Homo sapiens: one gene and its partners. The protein of the gene in region 1 purifies or fractionates together with the protein of each later gene. This does not show direct contact. Each region holds a gene or a part of one and is shown in the gene's direction. Other genes may lie near its edges. The genes, in order: RSF1, EIF3C and CENPA.

Region 1 (4,367 bases):
AGGTTTGAAAACTAGTCAGCTTTTCACACAGCAGAAGCTTTGAACTGAAATATGTGTGAAAAGGACGCAGACTGAAAACGTTTTGGTTTTGTACATCAGTGCTGATGAAATTAGTGTAAAACATTTTCCATCATTGGCACATTACTGCAAAATGATGGCAGAGATATTTTCAAGAATGTACATCAAGTTATATTTCCTTGACATCCTTTTTTCAATTGGTCAAGGTTACAGATTCAGAGGATAAAGGGTAGTTTCATTTAGAATAAATTCATGTCTACTGGCAATCTATATATAAAAGTGACCTGCCCAAGAACCAAAAACTTTAAATGCTAATGAAGCTTTTGAAAAATAATTTTTAAACAAATTAATTTTAAAAGGGTGTTACACGTACCCAGTTTTTACTTTTTAGTTGATGAAACCCATCCTATAATATACATTTGAGCAAAGTACACATATTAAGAAAAACATGGACATTTACTTGTTTAATAGTCAAAATGATGAGGAAATGTTAGCTGTTTTTAAGTGGGACTGGTGGGGTGTCCTTTGTCACAAGGAATGCTTTTTTAGCTTGTTTGTGGGCATAAGAGATGTTAACCCTTTGCTGATTCTACCACACAACTGTAAAGAACCTAATGAATCTACAAGTTTAATATTCAGAAAAAGCTAGGAACTCCGCTCTTTACCAGTACAGTGGAACAGGCCCGTTATTCAAGGTGATGCCTCACAGCTATAGAACAACTATTCAAAGACCCAGAGTTAAATGGTACATGTGTATATGTGTGTGTGTGTGTGCACACGCACACACTTCAGATAAGTATCAGAAAAAATAAAAATGAATCCATCATTAACTTGAAAGAAATAAGATGGCTGCATTGCAACAGATACAAATATTATGAACATCATTTAATTACAGAAAATCTAGACAACAGTTTCTCCTGATGTTTGACATTCTCAAAATATATTCCTCATTCTCGAAGAAGCAGAGAATGCCAAGGCTGCATATCTGCTGTAATCTACCTAGCCCTCTTCTGCTTAATATGATCCATTATTGAATCTTCTCAGATTAAAATCCATTCCTATATCATCTACCTTTCCCAAAGTGTGTGCCTGTAAACCTACCTTGGAAGTGGCAAGTTAACTGATTTTTTTGTGTCATTTTTATACCAATCCTTAAGGTCAAAGCCTTTTGCTATCAATGTATTTAAACTGAGTTGCTATATGTTCACTAATTTGTTTTCAAAATGTTTTGCTCCAACTTAAATTATCTTTTAACATCTTTTGAGTGCCAAGAATTGCTAAGTAACTGTAATATGTTGAAGAGAGTAATTGCCAAGCAAGCAGTCATAAGCCAAAATGTAATGAGCTTAGTATATAACCACTTTAGAGTATACACTCACCACTTTTTGTATTCATTCATGCAAACCCTCCTGGAAGTCGATTAGAAGAGGATCCAATTTGTGGACCTTTTTTCCTCCTTTTGGACACCTGAGCACAATTTTTTTTTTCCTTTCATATTTATACCACTTTGGAAAATTCAGTAAACCCAATTCTGGCACATCATAATGGTTTCAGTTAGTGAAGATGTTTATTTTAATAACTTTAAAATATGACTATCCTATACATAAGTTATATAAGAGGGCATAACAATAGATGAGTAGAAATTTATAAAATTTCTTGGATATTTTGAATGAGAAAAAAACATTTTTAAAGGAATTTTGTTTTTTCCTTTTTTGGCCAAACCGGTACAAGTTAGAAAGTGTGCTAAGGACTGAATACTTGCCTCGTGCTTTTTGCCACTGGATGATGTAAGTTAAGAATGGAATTGTTAATCCTAAGTATATATTTTCTTGACTTTCATCAGTTTCTAAAGAAATCTAATTTAAGTGTTTTGCGGTTTTGTTTGATCTGTATTTATTGAGTTCTGGTCATAGACCAGCAGCTTGCACGTCATGCTCATGAACAGCCAGAACATAGTTATTGGGGAACTTCATGGCTCAAAACCTTCTGAATCATTTAACTTATTTTGTATGTTGCAAAAAAAAAAAAAAAGTTTATTTTGCTTGAGAGTCACCTTTTTTTAAAAAAAATAACTGTACAGCTTTTAAGGGATGGGAGGTGGGAAAATACCCTAAAATAGGATGTAGATTTTTTACAATTGTGTTTATGCTAGATCATCTACAGGTGCATTATGTAATTAAACCTAAAATTGTTTAAAAATTTGTGCCATGTCTTTTTCATTCTCCTGCCCTTTAGCAGAATTGGTGCATGTCAACTGCTATGTGGACAAGCCTTGAAATTAGAGTAACAAGCCCTGTCTCCAAAGCTTTAAGGTCACTGCATGAAAATTGCACACACACACACACACACACACACATCTAGCTTATATTAGTAAATGGATTTTCAGGATCAGAACAGCTACAGTAGCCCAGATTTGGCTGTTAACAGCATATTCTTACAGCACATGATTTTTGTGATGCCTAACTAGGGTATTCTCAATGTTAGTCTGGTGTTCTATTCTCTTTCAAAGTAGCTTCTTGAGATGGTATCTGTTGTAGCTTGCCCAAACCTGCCATGAGGTTGTGTGTACACTTTGAAAGGGTATGTCCTATGCTAAGATGGTGGTAGAGCAGGGCTTGATTTTAATCTATTCATATAAAAGAAGGAAAAAACTAGAATTGGTCTATTTGGTTATTCAGTGGACTTAATTCCACAGGAATAGTTGTCTGCTGAAGCGTGGCAGCAAGAGAAGTCAAATTCAAGTTTCAGTTCCTTCCTTATTCACTAAGTATTTTGAAATCTTGTAGAACTTCTGATTCTAGCACAGTCTTTTACATGGCACATTTTACCATGGTATATTCACAGCTTCGTTTAAATGTCAGTACTTTTTCCCATCTGATAATTTTGCCATTCTAATTTCTCACCTTTGTAGTACAAGTGTATTCTTGAAAATAATTAAATTCATCTAAGTGTGTCATAATTTCAATCAAAGCTATATTCATGTGTTGCCAGCGTCAGTTTTTTGCTATCCTCATTCAGAAGGGAAGCCTGCAGATCATGAGTTTCCATATGAAGAATACAAATTCCACATAAAAATTTATAAATGGTATCTTTAGAATTTTGATTTAAAGTAATAGCTGGAATTCAGGGACTGATCAGAATGCCTCTTGAATTTTCCAACATGCTTATATGAAATGCTTTATTTTCCTATGCGTTAAAAAAAATATTCCTGGAATAGGTTCTCAGAATGTTTTATTTGGTTTCTAGGAGATGAGATTTAAAGCAGAAGCTCCAAGATTGGCATAAAACTAACTCTTGAGGTAATCAGGACCATGCTGTTAGTCAAATAGAAGCTGGAGTGCTCTCTGTCACATAATGTACTGCATGTGTGTGGGGGTGGGGGGGCAGGGAAGATCAGAAAACTGGAAATGTAATTCTGATAACACGCAAAGTAAATTGTGCATTAAAAGTATGGGAATTCTTGGTAGCTTAAAGCTTCAGGGGTTAACTTCAGTGTATGAACACCTAGTGTGTTAGAATTGCAGTGCATAGTTGTTTAAATACAATATTCCTTGTAAGTGACAACCAAAATATGTTGTGGCTGGTGCCAGTATTTTTGTTAATGAAATGTTCAGTGTCTCACTACAGTCTGATCAGAACTCTTGGTGTTATAAGCCAGGCCTAAAGCCATTTTATAGCTATTGGCCTAATTGTGTAACTTTTTCTTTCAAAATGTTTTATTATAATACTTCTGTCATTTCTTTCACTTAATATGTCAATTGTCATAATAAAAATTTAAATTTGAATTATTTAGCATGATGTGTTTGCAAACTTAGCTTATTTTAAATTTTGTGGCACATGGAACAAATTGTCTGTAACAGTTCATGACGGTTAAAATTTATCACCCAGGCCTAGATGAATTGTTCTCCCGCTATCTAGAAAGTAAATTTGCAAGTGCATCAGTTTCCCTAAAATAATTTTTAAGGCTATTTGCCAACTAGACAAATATAGATATTAGAAAACTATTATTGATTTCTATATTTAGCCTCTGGAGAACTAACACATTATAGAGGCTGTGGACTTGTTCTGTGTGGTCCCATAAGAGCACAGAACTAGACCAGAGGACAGAAGCCATAGGGCAAAAGTTTTCCATTCATTCTATGGAGGAAGCTTAGTTCTCTAATAATAAACAAGCTTGGAAGTGAATTATTAGGAATAGGGGATGTTTGGGAGACCAAACATCCACACATTGATCCACGCCTTAAAAAATGGATTAAACCAAATGACTAACCGGTCCTTCCAACCCTGAGTAGGCTTCTCAGCTACAAATGATTTGACAGTTTTTATTTACTCTTGAAATACAGTAAAAT
Region 2 (3,653 bases), on another chromosome or scaffold:
GGTGTCTCTCAATAATGAGTTTTTAGTCTCTTAACTATGTATTAAGTAGAGGTAATACTCGTTTAGAAATGTTGCTTTTATCTGTTGATTATATAGCTGAGGATATAAACATTTGTTATCTGATAATTTCTAACAAGATATGAATATACCAGAGTATAATCTGTCATAGGAGAGGTCAAGCCAAGTCTTAGGTCTTTCAGTTAGAATTTCATACAATAGTACATTTCCCTTTTGAGGTGTGTATCATACTATCTTTAGTGCTAGAAGTAATACTTTAGCCAAGGAAGTTTAAGTTCTTTTGAAGCATTCATTTTAAAAAATAGCTTTAGTTCTTCTGATCTCAGAGCTATACAGATGGTTTGGACCAAGAGGTTTTAGTTTAATGAACATGCTTTGCATATTTGCAAAGGATTTTACCTATAAAGTGAGTCATCATTAGAGTCTTGCAGTGGTACAGGGGAAAGATCCATAAGCTTTTGTTGTTGTTGTTGTTGTTGTTGTTGTTGTTTTTAATAGAGACGGGCTTTTTACCTTGTCACCCAGACTGGTCTCAAACTCCTGGGCTCAAGCAATACGCCCACCTCGGCCTCCCAAAGTGCTGGGATTACAGGCTTGAGCCACCGTGCTTGGCCAGTCCATACACTTTTGTTGAGAGTTATGGCATTGGTCTTCTGGCAAGGGAAGACTTAATTTAACTGGTAAACTTATAGACTATTCCAAAAACATATTCAAACCTTTTAAGCAGTGAAAATGAAATTTATTTATAAATGTTCAAATGGTAGATTATGGTTATTACATATGAGTTTTCAAAAATGTTGAGTCTTTCTGGAAAGATTTATTCTTCAGTATCTGTGCAAAGTTTGAAGTAATTTGTCTTTGCCATTTGGTTTGTATTTTGTTACATAAATACATACTCAAGTCTGGAGATGGTTTCAGGCAACATCCAGTAGCCTAAGACCATTTTAAGGTAGCTGGTGATCTTTTTCTGTTTTGTGGGGACCTTTTTTGTAATGAACATTTTTTTTAAATTCAGAATTTAGATTAATCGGTTGTCAAGAGAGGAGAGAAAGCGATAAAACAGTTTAGGAATAGTAAAAAAGAAAAAAATGTTTTTATATATTTGGGGGAACTGATTCATTGATTAGTTGGTCAGTCTGGAGAAAGCAGCTGGTATCAAAGAAAATAAGTTGTTTGTGGATTCTTTGGAAAACTGTAGATGTTAGCTTTGGAGCAAAATGACAGGTTGGTTTTTTTTTGTTTTGTTTTGTTTTGTTTTTTTGGAGACTGAGTCTTGCTCTGTCACCCCGGCTTAAGTGCAGTGGCATGATTGTGGCTCACTGCAGCCTTCTCTGCCTCCCAAGTTCAAGTGATTCTCGTGCCTCAGCCTCCTAAGTAGCTGGGACTACAGGCGTGCACCACCATGCCTGGCTAATTTTTGTACTTTTAGTAGAGATGGGGTTCCACCATGTTGCCCAGGCTGGTCTTGGATTCCTGACGTCAAGTGATCTACCATGCTTAGCTGACAGGTTGTTTCTATTAATATGTCTACAGTGGCCTGGTTAGTACTCTGTCTTGTTAGAGATGGCTATGGTTATGGTTCACTGTGCCCTCTAGGTCATTGTTGTAGAGCATAACTTGGACCCAGGAGCTGCTGGAGGAAAAGAGGAAGTTGATGGGAGGAAGAAGCCTTAGAGGTGGGGAGGGGCTGATCTGTCATCTTCTCCCATGTCTGTCGGCAGGGCACCCACCACAGATGAGGACAAGAAGGCAGCCGAGAAGAAACGGGAGGACAAAGCTAAGAAGAAGCACGACAGGAAATCCAAGCGCCTGGATGAGGAGGAGGAGGACAATGAAGGCGGGGAGTGGGAAAGGGTCCGGGGCGGAGTGCCGTTGGTTAAGGTGAGGGTTTCAGAGGTAAAATGAATTGGGGAACAGTTTGGGAGGACATAAAGGTCCCCTTGTGGGGAAAAGGCAAGGACAGTTTCCCGCTGGCATGTACATGACGGGATATGTGCTGATACAGGAGAAGCCAAAAATGTTTGCCAAGGGAACTGAGATCACCCATGCTGTTGTTATCAAGAAACTGAATGAGATCCTACAGGCACGAGGCAAGAAGGGAACTGATCGGTAAGATTCGTGGGCCTGGGCAGTGGGATTGCAGGGTGGCAGAGGGTGGAGGTTGGGGGAAGGGATTGTTGGGAGGGTCTGTGTGTGGCTGTAGTAGAGGGAATTGTATGCTTGGGGCATCCCCGTCCATTATCTGCTGTTTACTCTTCTTGTGACTTAAAACCAATCACTTAACGTTTTGGATCTGTTTTCCCATCTATACAATGAGATAATGTTCTCCTCTTTTTTTTTTTTTTTTTTTTTTTGTTTGAGATGGAGTCTCGTTGTTGCCCAGGCTGGAGTGCACTGGCGCGATCTCGGCTCACTGCAACCTTTTTGCCTTCTGGGTTCAACCGATTCTCCTGCCTCAGCCTCCTGAGTAGCTGGGATTACAGGAACCCGCCACCATCCCTGGCTGATTTTGTACTTTTAGTAGAGATGGGGTTTCACCATGTCTCGAACTCCTGACTTCAAGTGATCCGCCTGCCTCAGCCTCCCAAAGTGCTGGGATTACAGGCATGAGCTACCACACCTGGCTTTTTTTTTTTTTAAGATTAAAAAAGTAAAAGAGTGTTTACCTTCTTTAGTTATTAGGTAACAGAGGATGGTGGTAGGTGTGAAGCATTTCACAGCATTCCAGGATGGTTGGGATTATTGTTGCTTCTGTTTGGAATTTATAAAGGAGAAGCAGGGATATGGGTGATGAGGAGGGCGCGTTATCCGAAGCGGGCATGCTGGGAGAGACTTTGTGATTTGTCTCCAAAGCCTCACCCAGCTCTCTGGCCCTCTAGTGCTGCCCAGATTGAGCTGCTGCAACTGCTGGTTCAGATTGCAGCGGAAAACAACCTGGGAGAGGGCGTCATTGTCAAGATCAAGTTCAATATCATCGCCTCTCTCTATGACTACAACCCCAACCTGGCAACCTACATGAAGGTGAGAGCAGTGAAGAGGCTCATCTCAGGGCATCGCTGGTGGGTTGGGGGAAGAAGGTACCTAGCATCTTAAGACTCAGGGGCTATGGAGGCAGTCTTGGTGGTGGAAGGCCCCATGATTCCTGCTGAAGGGGGAGGCATCCGCTTACTCTACCTTCACACCTCTGACTCTGATGTGGCCTGAAATCTTGGCAGCCAGAGATGTGGGGGAAGTGCCTGGACTGCATCAATGAGCTGATGGATATCCTGTTTGCAAATCCCAACATTTTTGTTGGAGAGAATATTCTGGAAGAGAGTGAGAACCTGCACAACGCTGACCAGGTAAAGGGAGGAGTTGGCAGGATAACTGGAGGTGTGTATTTTATGCTTTGGGAAGGCTCAGTGGGACCCGAGGGTTGAGGTTTGAGACTGAGATCTGGGCTAATTTGTTGACTCCTCCTTCGCCTTCCTTTTCAGCCACTGCGTGTCCGTGGCTGCATCCTAACTCTGGTGGAACGAATGGATGAAGAATTTACCAAAATAATGCAAAATACTGACCCTCACTCCCAAGGTGAGCCTGAGCAAGCGTGGGCTTTGCTGAGAGGAAAATTGTGGGGAATATTACTAGGTTTAGAG
Region 3 (3,170 bases), on another chromosome or scaffold:
GCCTCCCAGAGTGCTGGGATTACAGGCCTGAGCCGCTGCGCCTGGCCGTATTTACGATCTTAAGAGAAAGGGCAGGAGTGTTTCCTTGACCCCACATTCTCACTTCCCTATACCTCCCATTTCCCTCTACTTCCCTTCATAGCTGTCCTTTTAAAATAGCCAGACTTGTTAGGTCCACATACATTGCATCTGATTCCTCCCTTCCTAGTGACCCTACAACCCACTCCAATCTGACTCCCCACAACCACTACCCCCACTTCTAATCTGCTTGAACTACTCCTGTCAGGGTCACTAGCACCTTTTGTAGTGCCAAATCCAGTAGGTGGGTCTGTGTTCTTACTGTGTCTCAGAAGCATTTGACGCAGTGGGCCTCTTTCTCCTTGAAGCGTTCTGTTCCCTTGGCTTCCATGCCACTGTGCACTCTGGCAGTTCTGCTTGGTGTTCTCTACTGCCTGTGCTGCCTCCCTCGGCTCCTTGATGTTGGACTTCCTTGACATCCTTTTCCTTTCTACCCCCTCCCTAGGTGGTCTCATCTCCTCCGTGGCTCTAAATCCCACTCATACATTGACAGCTCTCAAATATCTGTATACCTGGATCTCTCCTCTGACCCCAGATACCTATATCTAACTGCCTTTCTACCTGAAGGCTCTTGGTTATGTTAAACTTAACACACCCAAAACTGAACTTCTGGTTACTCCCCTCCAGCCCCTTCATCCTCAGCTTCCCCATTTCAGTAAATGGCACAACTACCCACCCAGTTGTTCAAACCACAAGCCTGGGAGACCCCCGTCTCCAATACAAATGCAGGTCCAGATAATTCTACTTCCAAACTGCATCCTTAATCACTCCATTTTCACCATCTCTGCTCCCACTAGCCTAGTCCAAGCTACCAGCAGCTCTCGAGCAACTGTGAGAGCCTCCTAATCAGCTGCCACTCCACTTCCACTCTGTCCCTTTCTACTTCTTTCCTTACACAGCAGCTGGAATGACCTTCCACATCTCTATCCTGCATAAAACTCTTCCCTGGCTTCTTATTACAGTAGGATTAAATTCCATCTCCTCATGTTGGCATTTCAAGACCCAGCTACTAAATTTTTGATCCCAGTTCTTTTCCATGATCTCTCTAATTGGTTACTTTTCATAACCACTTGTTCTTGGGTCATGGATTTCATATCTCTGTTACCTCTCTGAGTTCATTAACCATTTTTCTCTCAAAGTTTCTATTTCTTTTCTCTATTAACTCAATTTCCTCTGGTATTGGCTATTTTGTTTGTTGAGTTTGGTTCCTTTCTTTCATGGTATTGGCCTTCTTAAATTGTTGGGTGATCTTTAGTTGTGTTCATCTTCAAATTTTCTGTGAATGCTATGTCTTGTTTATTTTTTTATTTTATTTTATTTATTTATATATTTTTGTTTGAGACACAGTCTCATTCTTGTTGCCCAGGCTAGAGTACAGTGGTGCGAGCTTGGCTCACTGCAACCTCCATCTCCTGGGTTCAAGCAATTCTCCTGCCTCAGCCTCCCAAGTAGCTGGGATTACAGGTGCCTGCCACCATGCCCGGCTAATTTTTGTATTTTTAGTAGAGATGGGTTTCTCCATGTTCATCAGGCTGGTCTCGAACTCCTGACCTCAGGTGATTGACCCACCTTGGCCTCCCAAAGTGCTGGGATTACAGGCGTGAGCCACCGCACCCAGCCCTATGTCTGTTTATTAAAGACTGCCTCCAGTGACTGGATTGCCAACTGGTGGTGGGGAGGGAGGGAGGTGTCAGTAGTTTTTCTCCTGGGCATGGGTCTTCCCAGTTTTAAATGTTATCAGTCTTCTGGACACTGCCCTGTTTCATTGGCCTGTGTTCTCTAGCCTCACCCAGGGATGGTCTCCTCTGCTGGCTGCCTGGCACAGGCCATCTCTGGATTGTCTCACCTACCCTACTTGCTCTTGCAGCTCTTCTAACACTTCGTGATTAGTTTATTGTATTAAATGCCTTCTATCGAACTTGGTGTAGAGTCTCTTTGCTTGGCTGGATCCTGAATAACATTTCTGAAACAATTTTATCCGTCAACATGTTATTTTTGTATTTTGTTTGTTCAACTTATCAGATGTTCACTCATCTTGATCCTTGGTTGTAATTATGGAGCAACTGTGCTGTTTTTTCTTTAACTTTATTTTCACTAACTTATTTTCTAATATTTCTTTTGTTCTATCTTGTTTTGGTTTACTTTAATAACTCTGTAATACTTAATTTGACTGCTTGGCTCAGATACCTTTTAGTGTTCTTGTTTTCTAATAGGAACACTTTAAGGCTATGCATTTTCCTCTAGTACTATTTTGGCTGTATCTCATAAGTTTTGGGATATGGGCTTTTTATTGTTATTCATTTCCAAATAGTCTAATTTCAATTAAGTTTCCTCTTCAACACAGGTTAGTTAGAAGAAACTGGTTTTTGATTCATGAGTTTTTAATTTCCAATTAGAGAATTTGGCTTTTTTGATTCCTACTTTTGGGAATGTTTTTAAAATTATTTTCTTTTTTGTTCTTGTTGGAACCAGGATTTGAGCCAAAGGCTCTGTCTCCACAGCCCAGGTGCCTGACACTGACACTGAGTTAGGCCACACCTTACACAGGTCTCAGCTTGGCCACTAATGAGGGCTGGCCAACCATCTTCACCTCGCTGGGCCTCAGGATGATCAAGACAAGGGAATTGTACTAGTCTCTCAGATTCTTTCCAGCTGTAAAAAACAAACCAACAAAAAATCTAAAACCAAAATAACTGAGCTTCCAATCTAGGTGGGAAAGATCTAAGACTTGTACAAAGTCCTGCAAAGCCCAGAGGAGGGCGGTCACCCATCTGTTTGGAAGGATCAGGATTCGGGAAAGACTTCATGGAAGAGTTAGCATTTAAAATCAACTGCAGAGGATCATTCACTCATTCATTTAACAAATGTTTATTTAGCACCTATCTGCTATTTTCTAATTGCTGAAGATAGCAGCAAAATTACTATATATCAGGTTGGTGCAAAAGTATTGTGGTTTTTGCCATAACTGCAATGACTTTTGCAGCAACCTAATAAAACAGACAAAAATCCCTGCTCTGTGGAGGGTAGGCACATAGATATAGTCTAGCAATTTGACAGCTTACCTGACTCAGCCAAGCTGCGAGGCACCACCT

Evidence for each region.
Region 2: the proteins of RSF1 (region 1) and EIF3C fractionate together in Homo sapiens (co-fractionation; one large-scale study listed by BioGRID). This does not show direct contact.
Region 3: the proteins of RSF1 (region 1) and CENPA purify together in Homo sapiens (affinity purification with western blotting; 2 studies listed by BioGRID, with this or other methods). This does not show direct contact.

What each region holds. Positions count from the first base shown.
Region 1 is NC_000011.10:77,659,445-77,663,811, reverse strand, and holds the end of RSF1 (remodeling and spacing factor 1), read left to right. Parts: 3' UTR 1-3,803; downstream 3,804-4,367. UniProt on the Homo sapiens protein: Regulatory subunit of the ATP-dependent RSF-1 and RSF-5 ISWI chromatin-remodeling complexes, which form ordered nucleosome arrays on chromatin and facilitate access to DNA during DNA-templated processes such as DNA replication, transcription, and repair.
Region 2 is NC_000016.10:28,721,425-28,725,077, forward strand, and holds part of EIF3C (eukaryotic translation initiation factor 3 subunit C), read left to right. Parts: intron 1-1,739; coding exon 1,740-1,899; intron 1,900-2,023; coding exon 2,024-2,127; intron 2,128-2,827; exon of another isoform or gene 2,828-2,897; coding exon 2,898-3,039; intron 3,040-3,233; coding exon 3,234-3,359; intron 3,360-3,494; coding exon 3,495-3,588; intron 3,589-3,653. UniProt on the Homo sapiens protein: Component of the eukaryotic translation initiation factor 3 (eIF-3) complex, which is required for several steps in the initiation of protein synthesis.
Region 3 is NC_000002.12:26,788,928-26,792,097, forward strand, and holds part of CENPA (histone H3-like centromeric protein A), read left to right. Parts: intron 1-3,170. UniProt on the Homo sapiens protein: Histone H3-like nucleosomal protein that is specifically found in centromeric nucleosomes. Replaces conventional H3 in the nucleosome core of centromeric chromatin that serves as an assembly site for the inner kinetochore.